2 separate regions of the Homo sapiens genome follow, and region 1 is linked to region 2. The links come from fine-mapping of genetic effects on plasma protein levels. A gene starts in region 2. The other region holds a variant in brackets. All regions are shown on one strand. Distances are from middle to middle.

The links. PIP is the chance, under the fine-mapping model, that this variant and not a neighbour inherited with it causes the effect. Protein levels are from antibody-based Olink assays in UK Biobank. Linkage for the fine-mapping came from a reference panel and not from the study's own genotypes, which makes the PIPs less certain.
Region 1: its variant is fine-mapped to the plasma level of the SEMA7A protein (UK Biobank, PIP above 0.99).

Annotation. Positions count from the first base shown.
Region 1 is chr15:74,391,057-74,406,505 of GRCh38, reverse strand. LINC02255 (long intergenic non-protein coding RNA 2255) reads right to left here. Exons shown (of 4, transcript NR_146881.1): 3 at 15,425-15,449; 4 at 11,750-13,199. Among named protein-coding and RNA genes, the nearest start is that of MIR6881, 13 kb to the left of the region's middle. RefSeq lists enhancers at 2,505-2,774, 2,815-2,904, 2,454-3,419, 3,035-3,564, 3,785-3,834 and 15 more, a silencer at 3,330-3,539 and a cis regulatory region at 13,618-14,172. The variant G/T (reference allele first, on the strand shown) is at 6,435.
Region 2 is chr15:74,421,402-74,436,499 of GRCh38, reverse strand. It overlaps SEMA7A (semaphorin 7A (JohnMiltonHagen blood group)), which reads left to right and starts at 2,542. Exons shown (of 14, transcript NM_003612.5): 1 at 2,542-2,759. The coding sequence starts at 2,582. RefSeq lists silencers at 2,400-2,909, 2,960-3,109, 3,260-3,379 and enhancers at 6,559-6,658, 6,699-6,778, 7,399-7,488, 12,382-13,012, 13,278-13,572 and 1 more.

The DNA of each region.
Region 1 (15,449 bases), 30 kb after region 2:
AAGATGAGAGAAGGGAGAGTATCTAGAGGTGAGACTGGATGACTCCAGCAGTTCCCGATCCTGGGAACTAAAGCAAGATCTTTATCCTGCAGACACTAGGGAGCAATTGAAGGATTTTGAGCAGGGGTGGGGTAGATGATAATGATAATAATGGTGAGGATAATGGGAGCCTGAGATCCGTGTTTTCTTACACCCCATCTCTTACACCAAAGACCCACTCCTCACCATTTCCAGGTGTTTCTAGCTCCTTAAATGGTCCAATTTTAGCCTTCTGCTTACTGGAAAAGAAAGTGCAGCCATCCTGGCTACAGTGCCAGACAGGAGGTCTGTAGGCTTGGGCCAGTGGAATGGGGCTGAAATGGCTAAATCTGGCTCGGAAACACTTTTATCTCAATATTGGTTAACTCTGGGAGGAAGAGACCTTGGGAGAAAAACAAAAACAAAATCCACATTCTCAGGGTCACCAATGGCCATGAGTCAGCCCCCACCAAGGGAAGGAGCACAGAACCACACTCGGGAGGCGCTGGCCCTGTTAGTATGCTGGGGCGTTTCTGTAGGGTGGTGTTCACACCAGAACCGCTGCACTCGAACCAAGTCAAGGTCCCAGAACTCTGGCAGTTCTTTCAAGTTGGGCAAAATAAATGAGCTCAGAAGGGCTTAGGTAGAGGTGAACACGTCCTTTGGGGCTGAGCCTATATCATGGTGGGGAAACACATGGCTTGCAGCTTGATTCAGCTGTAGCCTATGCCTGGAGCAGGCATTGCTGATCAATTGTGGCATTCCTTTCCTGAGCTCATATGAGTGATTTTCTTCAGAACTTGCATTCTCTGGGGGCTACTGGGCACTTGAAATAGGGCTCATCTGAATTGAGATGTGCTGTAAGTATAAACAACACACTGGATTTTGAAAACATAATATGAAAAAAATGACCTTAAATTTTTACATCGATTACACTTTGAAATGATAATATTAGAGGTTGGGCGTGGTGGCTCACACCTGTAATCCCAGAGCTTTGGGAGGCTGAGGTCAGTAGATCACCTGAGGTCAGGAGTTTGAGACCAGCCTGGCTAACATGGTGAAACCCTGTCTCTACTAAAAATACAAAAATTAGGTGGGCATGGTGGCGTGTACCTGTAATCCCAGTTATTTGGGAGGCTGAGGCAGGAGAATCGCCTGAACCTGGGAGGCAAAGGTTGCAGTGAGCTGAGATTGCTCCATTTTACTCCAGCCTGGGCAACAAGAATGAAACTCTGTCTCAAAAAAAAAAGAAAAAAAGAAATGATAATATTTCAGATATAAGATATATTTGGCTAGATAACATACAAAAATTAATTCCACCTATTTCTTTAACTTTTTTTGTTGTTGTTGTTTTGTTTTTTAGATGGAGTCTTGCTCTGTAGCACAGAATGAAGTGCAGTGGCAGGACCTTGGCTCACCACAACCTTCGCCTCCCAGGTTAAGCGATTCTCCTACCTCAGCCTCCCGAGTAGCTGAGATTACAGGCGCCCGCCACCACGCCCGGCTAATGTTTGTATTTTCAGTAGAGACGGGGTTTCACCATGTTGGCCAGGCTGGTCTCCAACTCCTGACCTCAAATGATCTGCCCGCCTTGGCCTCCCAAAATGCTGGGATTACAGGCGTGAGCCACCGCTCCTGGTCTTCTTTAACTTTTATCTAGTGTGGCTACTGGAACATTTTAAATTATGTGTGTGGCTCATATTGTATTTCTGTTGGACAACACTGTTACGGAATATCTGCTCTGCGGGGGCAGGGAATTTTGTCTTTTTTTGTTCACAGCTAAATTTCATAGCACCTAGAGTAGCACCTAGCACACAGTAGGTGGTCAGTAAATTATTTGTGGAATGAATGAATGGATCCTCACCAGCATTTCTCCTTAGGAGTCACCAGCAATTGATCAGATGGAACTTATTTGCTACCCCGAGCCTAGCGGATGCTACACCACAGTGCTAACAACCCCCGTTTGTGCTTTCTGACTTTAGAGCTTGTGTCGCTCTCCTGGGACTCTCCTGATACCCAGTGGGGCAGGTGAAAGTGGACTCTGGTGAATGCACTGCTCCGCTGAGGGTCTTCTGAAAGGGAACGTTTCCGTTCCTTCTGATCAGGAAGCAGGGCAGTGTGCAAATGGTATGGAAATCACTTCTTGTGGGTGTTTGCCTATCTAGGGTGCTGGGGATACTTCCAGTCCACTTCCTGACCCCAGCCCTTGGTCCCTAGAGACAAAAGAGGAAGCTCTGGAGACTTTGAGCTCTGGGGGCAGATCGGGGGAACTGGGGCCCCCTTAGTCTTTCCCCAGCGAATGAGGGCTTGTAGCCCAGAGCATCCTCATCTCTCAATTCAGCAGGAGCCTAAAAATAGTCTGCAGTTTCAGCCTCCCCCACAGCCGCCCGCGCCAAGTGGGGCCCTGCGCCCGGCAGCTCCTCCACAATCCAGACTGTCTGCACAATCTGCCCCAGCTACCGACCCCCATCTCCTCGGCGTCTGTCCCATCCTGGCCCCTGAGAACCCTGAGCTCAGCACTCCCTGCTGTGAGGCCTGCTGAGGGTCTGCTTCACACTCTGCCTTTCCTAACAGCCTGGGCCCTGACCCCTGGAATTCCAGACCCCATGTTTTGTCCACTCTCCATTCTGGAGGGGACGCTAGCCAGACACAAGTGGGGTGAAGGTGTTGCAGGTAATGAAACCAGCACATGCAAAGCATGGGGTGCGAGAGAGCACAACATGCCATGGAAGGGGTGAGCCGGAAGGGCTGGGTGCACGGGATGGAGTACGGGGGCCAGTCCCAAGCTGGAAGGCAGCACCGCAGGTCTGTTGGCTCCCACCCCACGCGTGGATGCCCTGGAGTAGATGATGTCTTCGTCCAGCCCACGGTGGAGCAGGACTGCCCCTTGGATCAAGTAGCCTGCAGTAGCTCTGGTGCCACCCACACCTTGTGTAGAGCCCAGAAGGAACGCTTAGGTGCCAGGGCCTGTCTCCCTGTTTTGGGTCCTCCACATCTTGTGGGAAGCCCTGGTGCCTTCCGGCTCTGAGCTTCTGGGGTTCCTGCCTGCTTAGCAATACAGGAAGTCTCCTCAATGAGGTCCAGCAAGGGGAATGCCTCGAGGCAACCAGTACCTTGGTGGCAGAGCTGGAATGAAACCCTCCATATCCTGATGCCCAGCTGGGACCCGTCCCTCCCATCAATGTCGGGCGACCACTGCTGAGGACACATCCTGGTCAGAACCTGAGATACGGGGCTTGGGGACCTGCCCTGCAGAAGGGTTTCCTGGTGGCAGGAGTGAGTGTGCAGGTGACACTGCTGGCCCATGACGGTTCCACATTCTGAGTGAGCAGGGTCCCAGCTGCAGGAAGTGGTGGCGGCAGAAGTCACAGTCACCTTCCTCTCCTGGGGGCCGGCTTTCGGGGAAGCCAGGGGAAATGCTGAGCTCATGGGCTGTTCTTCCCACAGCTGGTTTCCAAGGCCTTTTCTTGTCCCTGACATCTCTCCACAGCCTCACCACAGCCCTCAGAGGCGGAATGCCATCGTGGGCATTACTGTCCCATTAGGCAGAGCAGGTGCAAGGCCAGCCTCTTGCTCTGAGCTACCTGCCCCTTCAGAGCCTGGCCTAGAACCTGGACTCCTGCCTCTTCCCACCTCCACACAACACCCTCCCCCAAGGAAACAGGGGTGGGTGGAATCTAGAAGCTTCTCAGGTGAGGTGAAGGTGTTGGGAAGGCATTAGAACTTGAGGTTTTCTCACCTCCACCAGCCCCTCATTTCCCAGCAGATGTGAGACCTCCTTGGTGTGCATGTCAGCCCGTGATAGGTCAGTCTCAGGACGTTTCCCCCAGCATGGGGCCTGTCAGAGGAGCTCCCCCTCCCCAGCCACCACAAGAGCCCAGTCACTGGGAGCGCCCCTGCACCCTGGAAGGCATCCGAGGGATCCAAGCCCATTCCTCAGCTTGAGGAAATGGCAGCCCCTGCAGAGGGCCCTGACTGGCCCTGTGAGTGTGGAGGTGGGGGCGTCCTAGCCCTGATACATCCTTTCCTGAACTCCACCCCAATCATGGGTATAAACACAGGCAGAACATCAATGAAGTGAGAGGAGAGTTGTCTGCCTTGGCAGCCAGCACCAGGGAAGATGGAACTGTGGCTTGTCTACCTGTCTGGCCTTCTGTTGTTCTCTGTCTCAGTCTCATTCTGTTTCCCTGTTGGTCTCTGTTTCTATTCTCTCTCTCTCTGTCTCTCCTTGTTCCTATTTCTCTCTCTGGCTTGACCTCTTATGCTCACTTACACAAAACAAGCATGCATATATACAACAGGTGGGCACATGGGACCACACGTATGACCTGCTCACCCATACACACGTACAAACATGCACATCTGTGCACACATGCATCCACACAGAATCCTCCCTCCTCAGATCCTGTATGTATATTCAGAGAAGGGGGTGGTGGTGAAGCTCTCTTTCCATGTATCCACAGGCTCAGGGAGAACCCACAGTTAATTTCCAGGCTGTTTCTGCCTCCCTGTCACTGGCAACTGGGAGCTTGGAGGAATAGGCTGGGATCCCCACTGATATCTGGGACTCTGGTGGGGATCTCTGGGCCATCATAACCTGCCAGTGAAGAGCATGAGAGGGGAGGGGGAGTCTCCGGAGGTGAGCAGAAGGGACGAGATAGGAAGATGAGATGTTGAGTTAGCAGTGCACTGGCCTGGAGGGCTCTCTGGCTCCTTCCCCTCCTGATGCTCTTCCTGGTGGTCCTGCTGAGATGCCCTATGACCCACCTGAGAGCTGGGGACCAGGGACGACTGGACCACAGGAGGCCCCAGAGGGAGGCGCCTGCAGGGAGGGAAGCCTCCTCAGTCATTTGCCCCACCCACAGAAAGCTGGAGGCTGGACGTCCCTAGGGTGTGTGGCCATGAGGAGAGAGCCTTTATTCCTGTCCTTTCAGGACAATGGGCCAGATGAGGCCCCACCAGGTACTTGGGTTTCCTGGGTGGGTCGGGGCTTTCCTGGAATGCTCAACCTTCCTGGTGTCCCAGGGTTGAGGTAACTGCATGGGAAGAGGGTAGGCAGGAAGCCCTTACGGTCTGTAAGGACCTGTCCTGCCCTGGAGTCTGGGTTCAGGTGGTCATCAGAGCCTGCACGCCTCCACCACTCTCAGCATGTGGGCCTGCTCCCTGTTCAGAGCAACCCCCTTACTGAGCACCTGTGTGGTGCAGGCTGTGCTGGGAGGAGGCTTGTGAAGAGCAGGTGAGCTAGGACTGGGCACCAGAGAAGGAGGAGCCCCTTTCGCTGCTGGGGCAGGAGCTAGAGCCCCCACGGGCATGTTTTGGTGTGGGGACAGATTCAACAGGAGCCCAGGGATCTTTCTGAAATGTGACACTTGCCTCCACCCTCCTTGCCAGAAAGGGACATTGCTCAGCCACCTGGCTCAGCTTCAATAAGCAAGTAGTAATAGTGGTGAACAAAAGCCAAATGCGTAAGTCACGCACCTGCCCGGGACTGTTCTGAAACTTTGTGTGAATTGTCTTGGTTAGTTTTCTCACCAGCCCTTTGAGGTTGATACTATTACTATTGTCTCCATTTCATAGTTCAAAGAACTGAGGCTGAGAAAGAGTAAGTAGTTTACCAAAATTTCACAACAAAAAGATGCATCTAATCTTTGTCCTCAAGAAACAGGGGTTCTACTTTTACTTTTTTTTTTTTTTTTTGAGATAGGATCTTGTTCTGTTGCCTAGGCTGGAGTGCGGTGGCACGATCTTGACTCACTGCAACCTCTGCCTCCCGAGTTCGAGTGATTCTCTTGCCTCAGCCTCTTGAGTAGCTGGGATTACACCACGCCTGGTTAATTTTTTTTTTTTTTTAATTTTTAGTAGATACGGGGTTTCACCATGTTGACCAGGCTTGTCTCAAACTCCTGACCTCAAGTCATCCACCTGCTTCAGCCTCCCAGAATGCTGGGATTACATGTGTGAGCCACTGTGCCCGGCCCAAGCTCCTGCTCTCTTTGCTGGGTTCGCGGTTAATACAAGTGATACACACAGCAGAGAGAAGCAGTCAGGTGGGCCACTCTGGCAAAATGGCAAAGATCAGGTCTGGGACAGAGTCTGCCCCAGTGACCAGGGTTCCCTACACAGAGTCCATTAGCACCCGAGTCTTGGACCTCAGAGGAAGATGATGGGATCACTTGTTCCAAGACACCCTGAGGCTCTGAGACAGGGAGGTCACCTGTCAATCTGTCCTACTTGGGACCGAGGTGGGCTGAGAGGCCCTCTGCTTGGGCTGCAGGGCCCCTGCAGGGGTTGAGGATCAGCTTTCTCCTCTCATTGGTTCCTGCCAGAACCATCTTAGGGAGCAGCTGCTGTGGGGGCTGCTCTCCCACAGCAGGGAACCCACATCCTGCCCCATTACAGCAAAGTGAGCATCCGGT[G/T]GGGGAAGGACCCCCACGGGGGGCCTGAAGCTGATGAAAGTTGAGTCAGGGTGACTCAGTGGAAGGCCTCTTCCCACTGCTGTCTCCAAGTGGAATACTGTGGTCAGACCAAAGGAAGAACTTCCCAACCTCTGGTCCCACATCTGGAATGCATGCCAAAAAGGGGTCTCTGAGAGAACATGGCAGTTTGGCAGTTCTCAGGCTCTGTCATGCTACATACTGACCTCAGAAAGACCCCGGGAGGCAGACTGCAGATGGGGAAACTGAGGAAAGGGACAGGACCTGTACCAGAGCTGGGACTGTAGCTGGACCTTGAGTCTGCTCATCATGGGGGCACCTGCCCAAGGAGAGGGCAGCACCCCACTGCAATGCCCCCTATGTTTCCCCAGAGCCCCTCTCCTCCCATCTGCTCCTCAGAGGCCTTGTCTCGAGGTAGGAGTGGAGTGAGGGGGTGGGGGTTTCCCTGAGCAAAGAATAGTTCTCCTGTAGGATGCTGTTTTAAGAAACACACAAATAGACAAGCCACCCAGCCAGTCAGACAAGTTTGGCTTTCCAAACCTGTCCCTGGGGTGGCTGTTGTTGCCTTTTTATTTATTTATTTATTTATTTATTTATTTATTATTTATTTATTTATGTATTTATTGAGTAAAGGTTCATATAACACAAATTTTGCCATTTCAAAATGCACATTGCAGTGGTTTTGAGTATATTCATAATGCTCTATGACACCTACCTCTAGCTAACTCTGGAACATTCCATCACCCCCAAGAAACCTCGTGCCTGTTAGCAGTTACTTCCCCTTTCCTTGTCCCCCAACTAATGTACTTTCTGTCTCTATGCATTTGTCTCTTCTGGACATTTTTTAAAAAATTAAATTAAATAATTTATTCAGAGATGAGGTCGCGCTATGTTTTCCAGGCTGGATTCAAACTCCTGGGCTCAAGTAATCCTCCTGCCTGGGCCTCCCAAATAGTTGGGACTACAGGCGTGAGCCACTGCATCCAGCTTCTAGGCATTTCATATAAATGGAATTGTACATGTCACCTTTTGTGTCTGACTTCTTTCACTTAGCATACTGTTTTCAGGGGTTATCATGTGGTAGCCTGAACCAGGACGCCCCATCTTCTCACTGCTGAATGAGAGCTCATTGTGTGGCTAGGCCATGTTGCTTATCTGTGCCTCAGTTGATGGACATGGACATTGTTCCCACTTTTCGGCTGTTATAATAATATCCAGAATAACGCTGTATGAATATTTGTGTACAAGTTTTTGTGTGATCAGATGTTTTCAACTCTTTGGAACATCTATTTACCTGGGAGTGGGACTGCAGAATCCCATGGTAACTCTGTGTTCAACGTTTTGGGCAACTGACAAACTGCTTTCCACAGAGGTGATACCATTTTACATCCCCGCCATCAGAGTGTGAGGGCTCTAATCTTGCCACAGTCTCACCAACACTTGTTATTTTCTCTGCCTTTATTCTTTCAACACACACACACACACACACACACACACACACAGAGAGAGAGAGAGAGAGAGACATTGAGACAGGGTCTTGCTCTGTCACCCAGGCTGGAATACAGTGGTGCAATTTTGGCTCACTGCAATCTCCGTCTCCTGGTCTCAAGCAATCCTCCCACATCAGCCTCCCGCGCAGCTGGGACTGCAGGTGCATGCCACCACACCCAGATAATTTTGTGTATCTTTTGTGGAGATGAGGTTTCACCACATTACCGAGGCTGGTCTCGAACTCCTGAACTCAAGAGATCTGTTGGCCTTGGCCTCCCAAAGTGCTGAGATTTCAGACATGAGTCACTGTGCCTGGCCTTCAACACATATTTTGTTGAGCCCCTGCTTGGTGTCAGGCCTGTGCTGGGGTAGGGGATGCAGGGGTCCAGGCTGCTCTTGCAGAGCCAAAGGGACATAGATGTGACCCAGTGGTGGCTGGTGCTGAGTGGAGGGAAGGAGGAGGTGAAGTGATGGGAGTGACCTGCATGGACAGTCAGGGCAGGCTTCAGGGAGGCAGCGTTTGTGCCCTGGGAAGGTCTTGGCTGTTACTGTCCAATCCCAGCCTCTGTCCCTTCCCAAGTCCCCAGGATGAGTGGTAGTCAAGGTGCTGGGTGCCTCAGTGTTATAATGTGAAAAGTCTCAGCCTGGCCTGAAACTCACCCATTAGAGCCCTCACCTGCAGATTCTATGCCCACAGCCCAGGCCAGATGAGGAAACTGTGGCTCAGAGAAGGGAATGACTTCCCAAAGGTCATCCCAAAAGGTAGTGGCAGAGGGAGACCAGATCCCTGATCTACAGATGCCCAGCCTGGGGTCCTTTTAGCTCTGATGGGGTGAGGCCTGGGGCAGCATGAGGCTGGGAGCAGGGAAGATGGGGGAGGGCAGGAGGCTGAGAGAGCCCAGGTGAGAGAGGGCCAAGCTTGAAAGGTTTTCCCAGGCTGGGGGAGAGGCCCTGGTCAGGATGTGTATGGGTAAGGGGTGAGATACAGAGGTCCCTGGGGCGGGCCCAGACCTGTTTCTCCTTTGCCCAGTTTCAGTTCTGTTTTGCTTGTCCCCTTCTGTTTTGCGTTCAGAGTGGGTTGGGGTGGTGGTGGGGTGACTCTTAGCCCCCATCTTGATCCCCATGGTGGGGGATGAGGAGATGGGCTTAACTCCAGACACCACTTTCAGTCCCCCTTTCTACCCCCACCCAGGGTCCCCCAGTCTAAGGGCGGATGCGGGAGGCCTGGCTGGGTCCGTCCTCACAAGGAGGGGCAAGCTGGGCAGAGCCTGGCTGGCCTCCCCTGCTGCCATACCTTGGAGCCCACAGCCTCCAGTGGGTAGTGACTGGCCCCAAATCTAGACATAGGTAATGTTTGCTTAGTGAGCTCATGTGCTATGGGACTAAGTTGAAATGCTCTGCCCCTTACTCATACACCCTTATTGACTCACAGGTCCCCAAGGTGAGTCACGCCCACATCAGGTATTGTGGGTGTATGAGACATACACCCACTGCAAACTGGGATGCAGTTTCCAGTCCCCCTGCCAGCATGCTTAGGGCACCAGGAAGGGCAGTGGGTGCTGATGGGCCCCAGATTTACCAAAGATGACTCCAGTTGGAGGCCTTGGACTGCTGTGGGCTTGTCAGGGGCCTTTGTGGCCCTGGGAGGAGGTGTCTGGGGCTGCTCCAATGTCTTTGGGGTCTCTCAGGTTGGGGTGGATCCTTTGGGAGTGCTGGGCACTGGCAGAGACTCAGGCCGCAGGGAGGGGACTTGCTTTCCCTCTGGCTCCCTCAGGAGGCCTCAGCTGCAGTGCTGGGTGCTGGCTGTCCTCAAACCCATGTCCTCCAGCCCCCTGACGTCTTCTCATTTCCTCATCTCAGGTTTCAGCCCACTCAGGCTGACGTTGCCTTCTGATCTCGTTTTTCAGCAGCCCCCAGGTCTCCGTGGCTGCTGTGCAGAAACGCGAGTGGTTGGGGGAAGTCCACATGATGCTGGCCTTGAAGAGCCTCCTGCCAGCCAGGCCTCAGGAGGGCTCACTTCCCCATTGCAGAACTCCTGCGGAGACCCAGGGGCAATTTCTGGTCTTTAGCACAGGGCCTCTGAGGGGCTGGCTTTTCCTAGGGGCTGCCCTGGTGCTGTGGCACCGTGGGGTGGGGGATTTCGGCAACGCCAGGGGCTCGACATGGCTGAAACTTCTTTGGACAGCTCAGCTACCCCAGGTAGAAGCCTCTGTCCCTCCCGGAGCCAGGCCTGTCCCAGCTTCGAAGTCAGATGTTGGGACATGCTGTATGCCTTTGGGACGAGTAGCCCCGTGGGCTCAGAGCTCTGACAGTGAACCCAGATGGGGTTGCTGTGAGGCACTGGGCGGGTCTAAACAAACAAGGTGCTGTGTGAGTGCATAGGTGCGAACAGGCTGCTCCAAGGGACTCTTGAATTGTCTTTGCGGACAAGTGGGAGTTAGCTGGAAAAGAAGGAGCTGCGTGGTCAGAGGCGTGGAGGCAGGCAGTGGAATAACCCATGTGGAGAACTGCAAGCATTTCCACATGACTGACTGGAGTGTGAGGGGGTGTAGGAGACCGGAGGGCAGGCGGTGGGCAGGGGGCTGGAGAAGGACCCTGAGGGCTCAGCCAAGGAGCAGGACTTTTCCTGAAGCAGCAGAGGCAGAGAGCCAGGCCCCTCCTGAGCCCTCTCACTTCTGTGCAGGGACACCTCCCAGTGAAGTAGGCCTGGGCCTCAGAGGCACCCCGACCCTGGCTGCTGACTCAGCTCTGCCTCTGTGAGGGCCAGTGGGGGGCTGCCCACATGAGCCACGGAGCCATGGCATGGCCTGGGGCTGGCTCTCCTGGGCTGCCCTCCACCCAAGGTCTTGAGGTTCTGCCATTCCCTCTTCAAGGGGTCTGACCATGCAGCCCTAGGTGGGGACGGACCCTGTAGCCTGCTCACTGGTGCCTGGGGTGCCACTGCCAGTCCTGCTCTGGCGCTGATGGGGAGGCAGAGGCAGCCGCCAGAGAGAAGATCCCAGGTGGGGAGAATGTGGGCAAGAGGCCATGCTCCCTCCTGCAGCCTTCATGAAGGCTCAGAGTGTTCTGGAAGTGTTTGGGGGCTGGCCTCATCTCCTCGGCTAGCTCCAACGCCTCCCGGCTCGGCCCCCACATATCACGCTCAAGTGGACCGATCCTGACTGAGGCAGAAAGTAGAACTGGCCCCTCACCATGCGCTCCAGCCCTACTGCTGAAGGAGGCAGGATGGCACAGAGGTGAGGGCGTGAATTCTGCATCACTCAGACTTGGGGCTAGATCCTGGGTCTGGTGGGGAGCACACTGGGCTGGCAAGGCCCGTCGTGCTTTACTAGCTACCTTTGACCCAGTAATCCCACTTCCAGGAGTCTGTCTTACAGAGACACCCGAACGAATATGACAGATGCACACACACCAAGCTGCATACTTGTGATGGCAGAAGATCAAAAACATTAATAGCCATCAGCTTGGGACTGATATATCCCAATGGTATGTCCCCATGATGGAATTCAAGACAGCTCTAAAAAGAATGTGAGACTGGGTGCGGTGGCTCACGCCTGTAATCCCAGCGCTTTGGGAGGCTGAGGTGGGCAGATTACTTGAGGTCAGGAGTTGAAGACCAGCCTGGCCAACATGGCAAAACCCTGTCTCTACTAAAAATACAAAAATTATCCAGGCGTGGTGGTGTGCACCAGGTACTCGGGAGGCTGAGGCACGAGAATTGCTTGAACCTGGGAGGCGGAGGTTGCAGTGAGCTGAGATCACACCACTGCACTCCAGCCTGGGCAACAAAGCGAGACCCTGTCTCGAAAAAAAAATCTGAAAGTTTTCTGTGTATGAAAGTGCAAAAAAGCTCTGGGATTTCTGTTAAGTAAGAAAGCAAGTAAAAGTCAGTGAAGAGTAGAGAAAACACCCAATGCCCAGGCCAGGGCAGGAGGCAGCATGACGGGCTCAGGAGGCCCTGGGGAGTTTGGTGGGACCGGGAGCAAGAAGGGACAGACCAGGCAAGTGAGAAGGAGACCAGCTTGGGAGGGCCCCTGGGTGCAGAGAAGAAACTGAAAACTACCAGGAGCCAAGGGACAGTTTTCAGCAGATTCGGATCTCCTTTGTCTGGTACCAAGATCTGGCAAGTGTAAAGCAATAATCCACATTTATAATGTGCTTTGCATGCAGCATCTCATTTAAACCTCTCAGCACTGTAACCCCTATGAGAGAAGTGCTATTATCACAACATGTGGAACTGGAGCACAGGAAGGTTAAGGAACCAGTCCAAAGTCACACTGCTGGTAAACAGCAGAGCCAGAGAAAGGACCCTGAGCCCACGCCAGAATCACCTTGCTATCCTGCCTTTCACAGCGGTGTTGGATTGGAAGGGGATTGCTGGAGACCGGGGACAGTCAGGGGCTGTTATGAGTTGGGGACCCAGACGAGAAACAGTGAGGGCCTGGGGAAGGCAGCGAGTTTGGGTTGGGGATTCAAGTGTAGATTGAAAAGCTCTGAAGGATGTGGGAACGAGACCTGGTGGTGAGTGGGGCCCCTAATCCATTCACTCATTCATGCAGCAAAAGTATAGAGTGCCTACTGGGTGCCAGGTACTGTCCTGGGAGCTGGGCTTACATCAGTCACCAAAACCAACAAATGCCCCTGCCCTCAAGGGGCTTTCCTTCTAGCTGATGGAAACAGACAATAGTAATAGACATAAGAAATATGTAATTAGGTAATCTGTTAGAACCGTGGAAAGCTAAAGTAAAGGTAAGGGGGATTGGCAGCCCGTGTCCAGGAGACATCTGAAGTTTTAAGTGAGGTGGTCAGGGAAAGCGTCATCAAGAAGGTGACATTTGAACAAAGACTGAAAGAAGGTGAGGGGCGAGCTGTGCAGGTGTTTGGGGAAGGGCACTCCAGGCAGAGGGAACAGCCAGGGCAAAGGCCCGGGGCTGGGGCGTGTCTGGCGCGTTCGAGGAACAGCAGCGGGGAGGCTGTCACCCCTGTCCATCAGTGCCTGTCTCTTCTTCTGGAAACAGGGAAGGGCTACACTTCTTCCATTTGGGGTTAGGCCCAGCTGTGTAATCTGCTTTGGCCAGTGAGATACGAGTGGAAGAGATGCGTGCCACTTCCGAGCTGAAGCATGCAGGAGTCAGCGAGTGATTCCACATTCCCTTCACCCTGCCTGGAAGCAGGTGATGCTCCAGATGTCCCCGACATGGTCATGAGAGAGGACGATGCAGCGTAGCCCTCCCTGCTGACCCTCATGACGTGAAGCTGGAATGAGAAATGCCCCTCTCTGTTTTAAGGCCCAGTGAGTAGGGATGGTCACCACAGCACACCCCAGCCTGCCTCAACTGATACCCCAGGGGAGGCCTCTGCAGTGCAGCCAGAGAGAGGAGGGTGCAGGGAGGAGAGCAGAGGATGCAGGCAAGGAGGCCAGGGCACGCAATAATTCCCCGGCTTTTCCTGAGAGCGACACAGGAGCCATTGGGAAGCGTCAACTGGAGAGGTGCGATCCAGTGACATATCTGAACAGGACGGCTCTGGCCACTGTGCTGGGAACACCTGGGGGCAGGAGTGAAAAGGTGGGAGCAGGGAGACCAATTAGGAAGCTCCTGCAATGATCCAGATGAGAAATGATGGGGGCCTGGCCCAGGGTGGGGGCGGCAGTCTGACTCTGGGTCTCCTTTGAGATTAGAGCAGTAGGGTTTGCCAGTGGATGGGAGAGGGAGAGGGGTCTGGGATGCCTCGAAGGCTTTTGGTCTGAGCATCAGGAAGGAGAAAGCTGCCAGCCGGGGGTGGGGAGAATGCGGTGGTGGGGGAAGCGGGTTGGGGTGCTGTGGGGAGCGGGAGCTGGAACGGCTGAGATGCTTGTTATACATCCAAGTGGAGTGTCATGTGGGCGGCTGAGGAGAGGCCTGGCTGGGGGAGGGAGGACAGTCAGGCGTCTGTTTGGGTGTGGACAGTACAGACAGCATCTAACGGCTTGAGACTGGATGAAATCAGGAGGGGTGAAAGCTGGTGCCCCTTTCAGCATCTGGGCTGAGGACAAGGGAGAGAGAAGGGAGGGCATCTCAAGGGACATCCTGGAGGTGGTCTGGACCTCAATAGCCAGAGGGTGGGGGGCTTGAGGATGCAGGAGGAGGGGCAGGCTAGGGGTGGGAGAGGTCTGTCTCCCAGGGTGGAGGCAAGGGAGGGGAGAAAGGCCAAGGACAGACCCCTGGGTGGGGCTTCTTTGAGGGTGGCCCCAGGAGGAGGAAGTGGAACCTTGAAGGGGACAGTGATGGAGTGGGCAGGGAGGTGACAGGAAATCTGGGTGGGCGTTTCAGGAGCCAGGAGTATGGGCACATGTTTTAAGAAGAGAAAGAAAAAAGGGTCTGTGCTTTGGAATGGTGTTGAGGAGTGGAGGCAGGGGTGGCAGTGAAGTGCCCCAGACATAACAGCAGAGAGGTGATCAGTGGCCTCGGTGGGATGTTGGGGCAGGGGTTAGATCCCAGGAATTAAGGGGATGGGGAGGAGGGGGTTAATGGAGGCAGTGGGTGGAGACCGTGCTTTCCAGAGCCGAGGGCAGAGGCTGGAGGTGTGGGGGTGTGGGGCTATTGAGAGAGGGGTCCTGTGGGATGGGAAAGACTCAAGCAGCTGGTTTGATGCCCAGAGGCAGCAGTAGGCGGTGGGGGAAGGCTGAGAAGCCAGGGAGGCCAGGCAGAATGTCGGCAGGTGCCCCACAGCCTCAGTGGCTCCTGAGTCCTGAGGAAGGAGGGGAGACAGGCTAAGGTGGTGATGGGAGGGGGAACACAGGCAGAGGCAAGGAGGGGCAGAGGCAGGAGTGGAGGGAGCGTCAGCCGCTTTGATAGATAACTGATGAGACCATGTGGTGAGAAACCCATAGAACACAGGGGAAGGCCTCCAGGTAGGGCAGGCCTGCAGGCACAGAGGTGGAAGCAGGAGTGTACGGGGGCAGGTGGGTGGCCTTGGCAAAGTCATGGAGGCAGGGAAGCCTGTGGGACTTTGGGGAGCAGGATGAGAGGGGCCCAGAAGAGAGAGGCTGGGGCCTGACCATGGAGACCAGCCTGCCAGGCATGGGCATCTGTGAGTTGCTCAGCAGGCTTTGGGTGCTGCTGGAATCTTGGCCAAGCTCTGCCTGATGGAAGATGCCCACTGTCCCTGCGTCTACCTCCTGCTTGGGCTTGGGAGGGCCTCCAGGCGTTCACATCCTCTCCAGGCCTGGCCTCGAGGTCCCAAGAGGGGATAGGTGTCCAGAGGCAGGGTTGGGCTGGATGAAAATTCAGGTGAGAGGACATGACTTTGGTAGCTTGCGCCTCCTGGGAACACCTGGAAGTCACCTACTGAATCATCAGAGCCACTTGCCTGGGATGGAACTAAGGTTTCCTAAGAATCCACCCACTTCCTCTTTTCTAAAAGTCCCTTTCATCACTTCAGGGAAAAGGAACTCGTCTTCATTGACATCCCTGCATGCACGAGAGCAGGTCATGATTTACCTGGTGTGGTGCTCATGATGGCTTC
Region 2 (15,098 bases):
CCTATGCTGCCTGAGGCAGGAAAGTCCATGCCTAAACTCTGGTCATAGTGCCTGCCCCACAGTCTAGCTGCCTTTCCCTTTATAAAGTTATTGCCTCAAGTCATGGGCTTAGTTCTCTCCTCCCCTGGCTGCCTGCAGCCAACCGAGAGAGTGGGCTGCCATCTCGCCTGGCCCTTTGTCCCCAGGTTGGCTGGCTTGTGGGGAGGATGGTCTTAAGTACTACTTCCTTCCCCCCTACCCCCCAGTCTGGAAAAAAAATTATCTGGCATCTACCCCAGTTTCCATCTGCTACTCTGTTGATTGGGAGATTGAGCCCATTCCCTGGTCTGCCCTCCTACTCAGCACCTGGTGACCTGGGCCCTATCTAGGTCCTTCTGGGGATGGTTTGGACCCAGACTTCAGCCACAGACAGGAGGCAGCAGTGCCAGGGTACATCACACAGAGAGAAGTCAAGGGTGTGGGTCCTTGAGAAACCACCTGAGTTTCAATCCGTCCTGCCTCTAGTTGTGCGATCCTGGCACTTCACATCCCTTGTCTGTGCCTTGATTTCTTCATTTGTAAAGGGAGGTGACTAATAGCTCCTATCTCATAGGAGTGCGAAGATTGAATGAGTTGGGAGAGGCTATGAGATGGCACAGCACATAGGAACCACAGTGTTAGCAATTGTTATTGCAGTCAGAAAACCCATCTTCGTTCTACCATTTACCGGTTGACCTCGGGCAGGTCCGTCCTTGTCCCTCCCTGTACCTCAGTTTTCTTCTCTGCAGTGGAGTTACGCTCCCTCCCTCAGTGAGAGGAAGAGAGTGGAGGACTGGCAGAGATGAGGTAGGTGAATGTGGGTTATGTGTTGTGAGTTGCCATGCACATGGGCAGTGTTATCATTGATTTTGAATCCATTTGAATTCTTAGTTCCAAAAGGCAGAGACAGGTGATTTCTTAGTTTGCCCTAGCTTTGCATAGAGAGGACAGACACTGAGGGCAATACCTGTCTAGCAGGTGAAACCGAATGTCCATCTTAGAGGCTGGCCTGGGCCAGGCTCCACTGCTGGCTTCAGGGCCACAGGCTTAGGTGCAGGCCTGAGGAGGAGCTCTTAGACTGTCCACAGCCTCCCTCTCTGGGGCAGTGTGCCCCTGTGTATCAGGAGGCTGTTGGCTTCACCCAGTGGGCCAGGAACCTCACTCTGCACTGTCTCTGGAGGTACCTTGAGTTTACCTTCCTGGCCTGCTGGGGTGCCTCAGGACTCTGAGGGAAGAAGGAGGGGACAACTGGAAGCAAAATGTAGAATGGTAAAGCCAAACTTCTTGGTAGCAAAACTTTCCTGGTTCCAGGAGGTAAAAACAACAACCAAATGGTCCTGGCCCCATGGAGCAGGGCAGAGGGCAGAGGGCAGCCAGCCCACCGCCTTTGCTGGTGTCTGCAGTGCGTGAATCGTGTCTAGGTCTGTGAGTTCTGAAGGTTGGATGTTCACCTCTACTCCTTCCTCGGCCTGTCTCCTCTCAGTGCAGCTAGACATCCAGTAAACACTAGATAAGTACTTACTGAGCTGGGTGGATTTTCCATTCATGGTTCCCTGGGGCACAAGTGGAAGTGGTAGGTCTGGGCCCTGTCTGGTCTAGAGAGAGGAGACCCTTTTACAAAGGGCAGGCACGTAGTTCTGAGAGGAGGAGCTGATGGCAGAGCTGGCTGGACTGCTCAGGTAACTGCAGAGGGTCTGGGCCTGGACCCCCCAAGGGAGTCCCCACTGAATGGTCAGGTTGCCTGAGATAGCTGAGCCCTAGGCACTTTGCGGGCAGAGATCCCCTTAAGCTGCTTTGACCCTCCCTCCCCCACAGTGAGTGGGGCACGGGGGATGCTCCCCTCTCTACTTGGGGAAGGGGCCTTCCTAATTATATCCCCCTCCACTCACATGGAAATGAGTTTGGATTTTCTGAGCGTACACCAGCTGGCTTGGGGGGAGGCAGCCCAGAAGGCTGCTGGCTGGGAAAGGGAGGAGAAAGGAGAGGGAGGGGAAGGAGCCAGGCCAAGATGAAAAATTTCCAGTGTTCTCCCAGGCAAAGCAACAGCGGGTCCCTGAGTGCTCCCCACATATCATCGTTGTGCCTGCTGGTAGGCTCAGCAGGGAGCCGTGTCCACTTAGGCGAACGCATCCTCCGAGGACCATAGTCCTCAGGGTGCGAACCACTTAGCTGGCCATAGCAAGGTTGTTGGGTGTTGGACTCCTCTGCGCCCTTGGAGAGAGGTCCTCCACGACTTCTACGCCAATCTTTTTACGGGGTGCGGGGAGTGGAACTGAGGCCCAGAGAGGGGATAGGGCCTGCCGCCCCTGGCAGAAGACCACAAGTCTGGCTTGTCCGCAGCTGGGCTTTCCCCGTAGAGTTGCCCGGGAGAGGGTGGCGAAGGTTCCCCCAGCAGTTCCGCTCTCGCTCAGGAAAGCCAGTGAGGCGAGAAAAGGCTGCGAGGGGCGGGGGGAGGGGCGGGGTGGGGTCAGCGCTGGCTCCGCCTCCTGGCGCTTGGGTCTGCCTGCGGCCGGGCGCTGGCTCAGTCTCGGCTGATTGCCGCTGTCGCTCCCGGGGCCACGGGATGACGCCTCCTCCGCCCGGACGTGCCGCCCCCAGCGCACCGCGCGCCCGCGTCCCTGGCCCGCCGGCTCGGTTGGGGCTTCCGCTGCGGCTGCGGCTGCTGCTGCTGCTCTGGGCGGCCGCCGCCTCCGCCCAGGGCCACCTAAGGAGCGGACCCCGCATCTTCGCCGTCTGGAAAGGTAGGCGGCGCCGCGCGGCCGGTCAGGCGCGGGATCAGACGCTGCGCGGGGCGGGTGCGGAGTGTGCTGCACCCGGAGGGAGTGCGTGCGCGCAGCTCTGCGGGTCCCGGGCTGTCCCCGCGCTGTCCCCGCGTGGAGCGTGTGGGTTTGGGTGAGTGTGTGTGAGTGTACACGCTGGCACACCAGAGCCGGCTGTAACGCTGCGGCGAGCGAGCGGCGGGGGCCGGAGCCCCGGCTAAGTCGCACCAAGTCCCTGGCAGCCAGGAGCCGCAACGCCCGGGCGCCAGGGGAGGGGGCGGGCCCCTCTCTCGGCCCCGAGCCACTCTGGGTCCTCTGGCTCGGGGGCTTCGGCGGAGGACCTTTCCCCGCCTGGGACCCCAACCCGGGTACCCTCCTTTTGAGCTGCGGGCTCTGCTGGCGCGCGGGGCGCAGGCTGGGCCGGCAAGGGGGGCGCGGACCCCTTGCCGCCGCCGCCGCGCTTCGGCAGCGGGAACAAAGACCCCGCCGCCTGCCCCCGCCCCCGCCCCGGCCCGGAGCTCGGGCCAGGCAAGGGGGTGGGCATCCTGCAGCGAGCGGCGGGACATGGTGCGGTGCGGCGGCTTGGGGTACCAGGGCGCTGCCTCAGCAATGCCGGGACCGGCCGCTCCCCCCTTGCCCGCACGTGGCAGTTGTCACCAGAAATCGGCTCCAGCGTTGGGGGGCAGTGCCCGTTGGGTGGGGCACGGCCGTTGGGACCCCCAGGCGGTGGATCTAGGGCGGGGGTGCAGCCTTTAGGCCAGGGTAGATAATAAGAACCTGGGGGACTGGAGTCTCCCCCAGGGCACCTCAGTTTAGACCCTGTACTATGGGACAGAAAGCCGGTTAGGCGGGGGTTTGAGGCTTTCTGCCGCGAGGAACTGATCTCCCCTCCCCTGCATTGCACACAAATGCCTCCCCGCCCCCAGTCCGATTCGGCTCTGTCCCCAAATTTGGCGTGTCTGCGGCCCCCCTGTCGTGATGGTGGGGGACTCGCAGTGGGGGCTGGGGGAACTGGTCGGGTCTGGCCCCACCGGGAGCCTTTTGATGCCTTTGGCAGTTTGCAGGGATTGCGGGAGTCTGAGCATTATCTGGGGCAGGTATTATTAGCAGAGGGGAAAAAAAACCATACACAAAACGAGTGGCCCGAACTGCCGCAGTAGCTGAGGGAATGTGACTTGCCCAAGGTCACTGAGCAGTGTGGGAGCCCAGGTGCAGGCAGGGGCTCTGATCTGGCACAGGACCAGTCCAGGTTCTGGGTTAGGGAGGGGAGAAGGATTTAGGTGGTTCAGGGACCATGAATGAGGTGCTCTGGGGACCAGCTCGGCTACCCAGCCTGAGGTGCTCCTGGAGGAAGCCGAGCAGTGCTGCTAGAGCTCCGGCCGCCTGTACATGGAGGAGGCCTGCACACCCCTCTGCCATCCCAGCTCCAGCCCAAGCTTCCTTTGCCCTCCCAGCAGCTTTGCCTTCCCTCAGTCTCCTTGGCTGTCTTGGACATCATAGCGTGTGGGCACTCTGGAGGGGACAAATGGCCACATCTGAGTGTTCTGGAATCTTTCCCTCCATCAAACCCCTTGCATTTTGACTCTGTTTGCCTGTCCCAAAGTCTTCCCATGACCCCCCACCCCCACCCCACTTAATGCACACCCACTTCTTAGCACTTAATGCATACATCCCATCCTGGGCACTTAGTTCCCACCCTGAGGCTATTTAAAGTTGCTTTCAGTCCTCTTACCCACTTTTCGAAGCTCCCAGCACAGCTCCATGGCCTACCCCCCCGCCCGCAGTTCACTGCTGTAGCCACACTGGCTGTGCCCTCTGCTTAGTAATGCACTGTTGAGCCCCGCTGGCTGGGGTCTGCCAACCGTTCACCAGTCTTGTCCAACGACAGTCTGTGGTCTCCTTCACCAGTGCCAGGTGCCCCACTGGCCAGACAGGCCCTGCCATTCACCTGCCCCCCACCCCCAGGGCCACCAGCTGGTGATGGTGTGCCCGACTGACAGCTGCCTCCTGTCTCCTGTGGGGTGACACATGGCAATCGGACAGGAATGGGCTTGGGTAGGACAAACCCAGGAACAGGGTAAGAGGGGGTCTTTCTGGAAGCCTAGAGCTCTGTCTACCAGTGGTGGGTGGGAGTATGGTGGTATCCAGGAATGACAAAATCAGGGATGGTGGTGGTTCTGGAGCCATTTCTCTATGAGGCATAGATGGGGGTTTTAGTTTTGAGTCAGGACAGCTGTGGGGACTGGAATAGGTATGGAAAGTTCTTTATTTTCTGCTGCTTGGATCCCCAAGTTCTAGAGAAAGATTAAAGCAGGGAACTCTGAGAGGGGCCCAGCCTGCACTGATCAGGGAGATTGCTGCCTCTGCAGCTTGATGAAAGTCTGGCACAGCGTAGCTCAGGCCAGGGAGAGAGATGGGCCATCATGTACCTGCTGGGTGTCCTTGAGCTCCACACTTGTCTTTGACCCTTAGAGCCTGCCAGAGCAAGAAAGGCTGTAGGGATTGTCCCCCAAGGGCTGTCACTGACACATGGGCCAGTCAAGGATGTGCATGTGTGGTCCTGATCTTCCTGTAAGCAGGAACTGTAAGGGAGTAGATTGCAGGTGAGGGCTGGGGCTTAGCAGGAGGTTGGCATGCGTTTGTAAGCTGTGCACCCCTCTTCCATTTTATCAGTGGTTGGAGGAGCTAAAGAAGGCTTGGAACCCCAAGGTCAGAGGTGAACCAGCCTGTCCATGGGGAAACAGAACCCATATCCCCAGTCTCAACCTGCCCGGCTGGTTCTGCCCTCCCTCGCTTTTGTCCAGTGAAACAACGGGATGTTATTGTTGACTTGGTGGCTGCTGGGGAGCCATTCTGGGGCTGCTCCCCAGGGCAGGAGGTTGTTGTTACCTCCTCCAGGGGATGAGGTCACATCTGGGGCTTCCCAAGCATCAGCATTTCCAGTGGAAATCCTTGCCCCCTTGGGGACTTAGATGTGTTCATCACCTTCAAGGTGAACTCCCTCCACAGAGTCTCATGGTGGGGGGGCAATTCCCCGGAGGAGAGGGGGAGTTTCCTAAGCCAAGAGAGATGCTTGGTGAGGTCACCAGGAGCTTCCTACCAAGCTCTGTGACCCCTCTGTCCTGGACAGTGAAGATTCTGAGAGCAGGTCCGGTGGAATGGACGCTGGCACAGGTCCAATGATGACCATGGTATAGGGGAGAGAGCTGGGAGGTCGGGAGCCTGGTTCAGGCTGTGACCTAATTTGCTCTGTGACTGGGCAAGTCTTTGCCTTTTACTGAACCCCAGTTTCCCCAAATGCCCAAAGAGGGTAGGGGAGGGGGCTCATCCTTTTCTGAGATTTAATGTCTTAGGATTTCTCTCTCTCTGGGATGGGAGGGGCTGGGCAGAGTCTGTGGTGGCCTGTTTAAATCTTAGATTTCGAGAAATCTGGAGGAGAAATTGAAACCTGGGAAGTCAGGGGAAACCCTTAAGTTCGCGTTCTTTCCTATCTTTTTCTCTCGTGGGCCAAAGGCTGAGGATCATTTGGAGGAAATGGATCATCAGCATGTGCCCTCAAGGGTGGACATATTCATTCAGCAAACATTTGCCGGGGCCACCCTTGTGCTGGTCTTGGGGATGAGCTTGGGGATCTGGTGATGAGGAACAAGATGATTCCGTGCCCTTGTAGACTTCTCAGTGTAGATGTAGATGGGCAGATAAACCTGCAGGTACAACAGAATGTGTAACAGAGAGCAGTTATGGGCACTGAGGAGATGCCTAACCCAATTTTCCCAATCAGGGAGGGCTTCCTGGAAGAGGGAGCAAGCTGAAATGGCAGGAGGAGGAGCCAGCTGGGGGAGGGAAGGAACAGGAGGAAGCACCCCACTTAGTAGGATTTTAAACCCAAGAACTTACAGCTAGGACCACAGAGAGGAGAGAAGCCATGTGAGGGGCCCCCATGTGAAGAGGCGTTGAGTCAGCCTGGGCCTGGGGGCTCCCGAAAAGTTTGAAACTTGTCCAGATGGGCATAGGTGAGGGGATACCTGTCATCCTATGACTGGCGCAGCAGTGAGGAGGAAGGACGCACCCACTGGAGAAGGGCCGTGGCAGGCAGGGAAGGCCTCTCGAGTGCTGGCAAGGCCATAGCCCCGTCACAGTTCCCTGGTGGGAGGCTGGCTCTGGGTCCAGGGAGACCATGGCTTTCCCCATTGACTCCTGACCGCAGGACAGTCTCCAGGTGAGAAGGTCTGTCCCTCAGCTCTGTCTTCTCCTGCTCTTCCTCTGCAGAGATGGAAGGAGCATGGAGGTGGCAGGGTGGGGGTGGCATGGATAGGTCACTATCTGGGCTGAGGGTGGCGCCCTGGGGGAAGCAGGGAAAGCTGGGCTCTGTTTTTTGAGGAGGGCCAAGCAAGGTGGGATGTGAAGCTCAGCCCAGGGGGCAGGTCTGGCAGCCCTCAGGGGGCAGTAGCTGGAGTAGATGGGCCACTAGCTGATAGCCTGTCCACCCCCAGCTTCACACGGCTCTGTCACAAGAGACTGACTGCACTTCCCCTGCTTTGGTCGGCAGCTCTGGACTGAAAAGTTTCCACTTCTCTTGATTTCCTTTTTTGGCCCAGCGTGGCTGCCCCAGGAGCCTTCCTTCGCCATGGTTGGGGGAGGAAGGGGCCCTTAACCTGTCCTGCCTTCAGAAGAGCCAGGGTTCCGTACCCTTGCAGGGAGGGCCAGCCACCAGGTGTATGGCCAGCTGTCCTGTCCTCAGGGAACCAGGCAGGCCAGAAAGAAAGCAGGGGGATGGAGGGCCACGGCACCTTGTTGGGCCCTGCCTCCTCAGAGGACAGAGTTCCCCCTTCCCTAGCCAGCCAGGCCTTGAGGGACTGTCCCCTCTCTGCCCCGAATGGTATGGGGTGGCTCTCCAAGCCCTTTATTCTCCCTGGCCCTGGCCTTGCCATCTCTCCAGATCTGTGCCCAGCCTCCCGGAGGACCTCTGTCCCTATGCTGCACCCCATCCAGAACACATGGCACACAGCTGCCGCCTTCCCCAGGCCCTGCATGGTGGCCTGGCCCCACTGCCTCCTAGACTCCCACAGTTCTTCCCTCACTGCTCCCTGGCTCCGCCTCCTCTCTGCACCCCACTCACCCTCCTCCTCCTTTCTGCCCAGAAAGGAGGCTGCTGGTTCTTTCTCAGTTCCTCTGAGGAACCTTCTTGGATGACCCCAACCCACACAGCCTGACAGCGCGAGCTTAGGATGTCAGAAAAGAAATGTCAGAGATTAGCTGGGCCAGCCAAACATTCCACAGATGGGGAAACTGAGGCTCAGAGATGACAGGGACTGGCCCGAGATCACCCAAAGAGGCAGAGCTGGGACCGGGGCTGAGTCGTCTGAGCCTGCTTCTGCCCCAGCTCTCAGCCTGTTTCCAGCTTTCTGTCTGCCATCATACTCTGTCCCAGGCTGGGGGCCCCTTCAGTGCCTTTCCTCCTCTGCTAGCCCAGTTGGGCCCAGACTCTTCCCGCCCCAGTGCTGTCTGTTCCCAGGAGCCACACCAGCTGTGAGTGTCCTCTCTTCAGGACCTTGGATTTGGACCAGCTCCATATACCTCTTCTGGTCTTTCCTCAGGTGGGTTGGGCCTCAGGTCCCAAGGACAGGTTGATCTGTGTCCCGGCTCGGGCTAATCAGGTTTTAACTGTCATGACAGCCTGGGATTATGCTGATCCTGCCATGCCTTCTGCACCCCATGCTTCCAGCCAGAGGCTTGGGCTCTGTGCCAGCACCCCTGGGTGACCCCTCATCATGGAGGGCAGCCAGCCTAGGTCTGTGTTCGGCTCCTCTGGGGGAGAGGCAGGAAGAGAAGCCCTGGGTTTGCCCTTGGGGAGCCCCCACATTCCTGGAGAGGTGAGTCTTCTGCCTGTGAAGTAGGGCGGACCCCTGGGGAGGTCAGGAATGACCTGCAGATGTAGCCTAGGACTGTGACAGGAGGTGAGAGCAGGAAAGGTCAGTGTGGGATGGTGCAATCAAGGAAGGCTTCCTGGGGGAGGAGGAGGAGCCAGGCTAGAGCTAGGGGCAGGAGCATAGGGTGGGGGCAGAGTGCAGCATAGACAGCTATTCATATTGTTGTTTGTACAGAGTCTCACGCCTGTAATCCCAGCACTTTGGGAGGCCAAGGTAGGCAGATCAGTTGAGGTCAGGAGTTCGAGACCAGCCTGGCCAACATGGTGAAACCCCGTCTTTACTAAAAATACAAAAAAATTAGCTGGGTGTGGTGGCACACGCCTGTAATCCCAGCTACTTGGGAGGCTGAGGCAGGAGCTCTGGCCCAGCCTGTCGAGGAAGGAAGGTCACTGTGATGACTTCTGCACTCCATTGGTGGCCCAGGAATCTGTTCTAAGATACCTGTCCCTCTGGCATGGGAGTTTGGCCTGCCCCAGTCTTGCTTCTCTCCACTGTCTGAGCTGCTCCCTGGGAATGGAAGACTTGGAGCAAGAGGAAGCCTGGTCCTCACCTTCAGGGCCCCATAGGCCAGATGAAATCCCATCAGACAGCATGATCTGAGCGAAGATGGTGGTGCCAGATGGTTTGTGGTACAAGGTCGAAGGTACGGGCAGTGAGGGCTGGAGCAGTCTGGAATACTTCCTGGATCCAAGGGATTTAGCTACATTTTCAAGGACAGGTAAGATCCATGTGCACAGAGAAAAGGAGGAAGGTCAATCCAGGGAGGGGAGAACAGGAGCAAAGTGCAGAGATGGAAATGAGCCATGGCAGAGCTGTGCAGAGATGAGGTGGGCCTTGACTGCCCTGCCCTGAGGTTTTGGGCCCTGCTTGGATGGGCAGTTAGGAGCCATGGTGGGTCCTTGAGCTGAGGAGTGGAGGTGAGTGTTTTCGCCAGGGCTGGCTGAGTGGGGACCTGGCTGGTGAGCACACTCTGCCCTTCACTGTGGTCAGCTTCAGAGCATGCAGTACTTTTTTTCTTAGAGACAGGATCTCACTGTCTCCCAGGCTGGAGTACAGTGGTGCATTCATAGCTCTCTGCAGCCTCTAACTCCTGAACACATGTGATCCTTCTGCCTTGGTCTCCCGAAGTGCTGGGATAACAGGCATGAGCCATGGCACCCGGCCCCACAGAGTACTTTATGTTCTGAGCGAGATCTTGGGAGACTTGTCTTTCTAATCAGTCACTCAGGACCGGGGCCCCACGCTGCACCTCGAGAAGATTCCTGCCCCACTGTTGTAACTTAGGATCTTTAAGATGGAGAGCACCTCTTCCATGATTAAGAGAGAGGCAGGTGGAAATAAAGATTTTGTTACTAACAGGTCTTGAGGGATACCTGGTGTACCTGAAGCCACACACAGGTGGAGGTCAGGGAGCATGTGCAGGGTGGGGGGATCTATGGGCCAGCATCTTTATGGGGTCCATGGTGTTATTAAAACAAGTTTTCCACAGGGAGTTTGTTTTGTTGTTGTTGTTGTTTTGAGATGGAGTCTTGCTCTGTCACCCAGGCTGGAGTGCAGTGGCGTGGTCTCAGCTCACTATAACCTCTGCCTCCTGGGTTCAAGCGATTCTTCTGTCTCAGCCTCCCAAGTAGCTGGGAGTACAGGCGCACACCACCATGTCTGGCTAATTTTTTTGTATTTTTGGTAGAGATGGGGTTTCACCATGTTGGCCAGGCTAGTCTCGAACTCCTGACCTCAAATGATCTGCCCACCTCAGCCTCCCAAAGCGCCGGGATTATGGGCATGACCCACTGTGCCTGGCCTCCATGGGGAGTTTTAATTGGTGGGTTTACAGCAAGCAGTCATGAGTTCCAGGAGGTCATGTTGTGACTTGAGACAAGGTCACTGGCCTATCTGCACAGTCCATGCGGGCTGTGGGACAAGGTCAGCAGGACCAATCAAGTGGGCTGTATGTAGCCATCCCACAGGGAAGCAGTCACCAGGAGACGACTGTCTACGGTAGATATCTGGATTGAGCACATGGAGGAACTGGGAGGAGGTGGGGAGCTGGAAACGGTGTCAAGGTTGACTGAGCCCTGCTTCTAGTGTGAGAAAACCCAGCTTATATTCAAAACGGATGCCAGGGCAACATCAAAGCATAGGAATTCACTACATTCACCTGGGCCTGCACACCTGTGCTCACTTGCACACACTGTCTTCAGGGTGTTACGGGCAGAGGTCAGGACTTCATTAGCCAAGTAGCCTCTAACTGGGCCTCACCCTCGGTAGGCTTTGGTCTCCTCATCTGTCTGGGAAGGGCTGACCTTGGAAGCCTCCAAGGGCTCATCTCTGGAATACGATGTTATAAGCACAGATTCTGGAGTCAGCTTGCCTGAGTATGAACCTCTGCTCCACCCCTTACTAGCTGTGTAATGCTGGGTAAGTTACTCAGCTTCTCTGTGTCTCATGGTCCTCATCTGCAAAATGGGGATAATAAAAGAACCTACTTCATGAGAGTTCAGTGATGATTAAATGAGTTAATATATCTAAAAATCATTTGGAATAGTGTTTGGCACGTAGTAAATGCGATGGAAGGGTTGGGTGGTAGGGGCATCATCATCGTCGTCATCATCTTCCTCCTCCTCCTCTGGCATCTCTGGTTTCTGATGGAATGCAGCCCTGGCAGCCCAGCCCCTGCCAGTTCTCCCTAATGGGCTTTGCTGGCTGGCTGCCCTTGCTCAGTCTCCCCTGCTGGTTCAGGCTAAGGCTAAGACTGGGGAACCTTCTGTTTCTCAGCAGTCTTCCACCTGCCTCCCTCCCTCCACTTGGGGTTGTGTAGCCATTCTCCGCCCTCTCCCCGACCCCTGCCCTGGCTGTGGGCCCAAGGGCAGGCCCTGCACCGCTACCCTTTGTCTGCTTTGAAGGAGCCACCAGCGACTTCGGCCCCACTCTGGGGCTTTTGGAACCTGCTGGGCTGGAGAACAGCTGGAAGGTAGATGGGACATGATGTTTGTCCTGGGCTTCCGGCCTTCCCTGGGCGTGGGCTCAGGGCATCTTACCCACTCCAGCTGGGCCTCAGTGCCAGCCTTCCTTCCCTGAGTCCCTGAATCCTGCTCAGCACAGCCTCTCACCAAGGGGCTTGCTTTCCACACTGTCCCTTCTCCCTAGGACTTTGCCCCAGACAGTCTCCCCAATAGCCAAACCTTCTTCTGGTCCTTTGAGCACAGTGGTGCCATGGGGAGAGCATCCAGACCTTGGTGGCTTGGAAGGGCATTAGTTTTCCTGTTTGTAAAACGGCAATACAGGTTGTCCTGCCTTCTTTGCAGGGTGGCTGGAGGTTTGGTGGGCTGGTCAGTGGAAGCAGATGAGAATGTCAGTTTCTTCTGCTGCCTCCACTTCCAGAAAACTGTCTGACTTCTCTGGCACTCAGAGAGTCACACTTTCCCAAAAAGACCCATGGACTTCACCCTGATTGTTTTGTGATTTGTTTCAAGAATCCTGGTGGGTCATAAAACCCAGGCCCAAACAAGTACCAGCACCCACCCTGACTCGCACCCAGCTAATCCACAGGGAGGAAAATGAACCCAGGAAGGCCCAGCCCCAATCACCGTCACAGCCAGCCAGCTGTCCAGCCACCAAAGAGATAATGAGGCTTCTTGGAGCCAGGGCTGAGCCACACATGAGATATACTCCCCTCCCACCCACAGCTGACCTTGGTGGGTGGGAGGATGCTCCCCTTTGGCCCAGCACACAGCTCGCTCTTCTCATAGCTCATAAACAAGTTAGACTTCTCAGTCCTCCATGAGCTGAGTGCTGTCTCGAGGCCCCACCACCTGCCCCAGCACACAGGCTCTGCCCCTGCCAGGCGACTAGCTAATCTAGAACCTAACCCTGCCTGAGAGTTGCCAGGACCCACCTGCAACCATGACCTATCCTTAGCACCGAGCCGGTGCCACCCTGGAAACCAGGCTTCTCACACCCTCTTCCTGGCCATATCAGGAGAGACAGAAACATTTGTTCCTGTATTCCCACCCCTAGTGGAAGGGTTTCCTCTACCACTCTGACATGCACGGCACCTACACTTCCACCATTAGTCACTCCTTTGGATTTAAGGCTTTGATCACTAAAGGCCCCTAGGAGATCAGGGCCTCACCTGGAAGGTGGGTGGGCGGGTGATTCCCTTTAGTTATCAGGTTAGTGACTCGGCACCTAGTGAGCAAGAGAGGGAAGGGTAGAGTAGGGATGATTCAGGGAAGTAGGGAGAGGCTGAATATACAGCTTTTTGCAAATCAGAGGCTCTCCAGGAAGCCCAGGATGTGATCCTGGAGAGAAGCAGCTGGGTAATGGGTACTGGAAACTTGGAGCTTCCCTCGCTCTGTGTCCTTGGGCCGGTGGTACAGCCTCTCTGGCCTCTGTGTCCTTCAGTTCAATGACTGTTTAGATCCTCTCCCTTCCACCTTGACATGTGGATGTGGGATTCCAAAGGGTGGAGAGGCTGCAGGCTAATTCCTAGGCATCACGTGGGCCTTCCCTCTACTCTCTTTTCCAGACACGTAGTTGGGCGAGGGTGTGAGGTAGGCCTGGCAGTGCAGGGGTGGGGGCACAACTGTGGGAGGACGCTCCTGCCAGATGTGCTGGCTCTCCAACCTGAGGTCGGCCTGCTTTCTGCTCTTTGGCCCGGGGCCTCTCTGACTGCCTGACTTAGGCATTCTCTGTGGGGGTGCCCACATTCCTGCCATTTTCAGAGCCTGACTCTCTGCCCACTTTCAAAAGGCTCCTTGAGGTTACATTCAAGGCCCACTGGGTCAGTGGGTCAGGTTGCAAGGCTGGCTTTGCCAGACCAGAGCATGGGACCCAGCCCCTTCATGGACAACAACACCTCCCACTCTGCCCTCCCCTGGAGCTGCACTCCTCTTTCACAAACAACAAGAGTATGGGGACAGCGGGCCAGACGGTGACAGCACCAGAGTGAATGAGAAGAGGAAACGTGCTCCACCAGGCAGGCCTGAGTTAGGAAATGCATGCCAGAGGCCCAGACTTGCCACAGTCGGTCAGCTGCTGGGGTGGTGATCGAGGGTAGGGTCCCTAAGGAGTCAGGCCCCATTCTTTCCAATGGGATCAGAGCCCTGTGAGCACCCGGCCCTGCGGCTGTGTCTGGTGGAGGTTATCTCCTACAACCCAGCCATCCTTGCAGCCCTCCTATCTGGCCGGAGCTGGGCCTTGCTGGCCCTGCCACCATGAGAAATGGTACTCAGGGGAACTATGGAGTCCGGCTGGGTACGGGGCAGCCTGAATGTGCTTTCTTGGTCCAGCACGAGTGAGGATTGGCTCGGAATCACATGGGGCGGGAGGTGGGTTGTCTTGTTCCTGGCCTGCCTCTGGGCTATGCCCTCCCCATATGTCCCTAGCCCCCTCCCCTACCTGAGCCCCTGGTTATTCTGGGAGCTTTTAGCTACCACTTAGCCACTAATGCGTCAGGCTGGGGAGTGAGGGGGGGACACGGTGCCAGACGGTGCTCCTTTTAGACAAGCAGGATGGGAAGCAGGGGGAGCCAGGAGGTGGGGGACGCCAGAGGATGGGGAGGCATTTTCCACTCCTGGCCCTGCTCGTAGGTTCAGGCAGCAGGGGAGAGTGGTGGGCAGTGGGTCAGTGTGTCCTTGGACAGGCTGCATCTTCCCTCCCCCATCACACGTGGGCCTCAGCTCACCTTCCCGATTCTTCTCATTAGGACTCTGCCAGGCTGCAGCGCATGGCCTCTGTCCTCCATACAGCCACCTTCCCCACCTTTGCTCAGGTTGCGTCCTCTGCCTGGCTTTCCCTCCCGGCCTGTTCAGGGCCCATCCAGCTTTTATCTACCTCACCTCTCCGTTTGGGTTCATAAAGCATCACAAAGAAAATGTTCAGGGATATGATACATACTCCCTTGGCCTGGCCTTTTTAGGGGTAGCCCCTGGCCTTGCTCAGCCCCTGCCTGGGCAGAGACTCGAGGCCTGGCCCTGATGGCTTGGTGCTGCCTTCACTTCCAGGCAGCCCTCCTGCCCCTTAGCCCCCAGCCCCCGCTCCTGCCAACCTGAACAAAGCTTCCTTTCATGTATTCATCGAGCTGCTGCTGCTCGACACTTCCCGGGCACAATCAGGCCTTTTGAGGGCCTCAGGCGGTGCGGGAGCCCAGGCTGGGGCTGGGGTGGAGAATGGGCCAAGGCCTTGTCCTGGGGCTGAGCTGGTGTCATTCCCTCTAGTCCATACGCATCACCAAGAACAGAGGTGGGAGGGCCAGGAACCTGGGGGTCATGGGAGGCCGTGGTCCTGGGCTCCTGTTCGTTTTCCTGCAAAATGGGACGAACAGTCCCTGCTTCCTCCACCCTAGCCATTGTGGCTAGGGTTTGAAGGGAACTGGGCTCAGGCTTGCAGA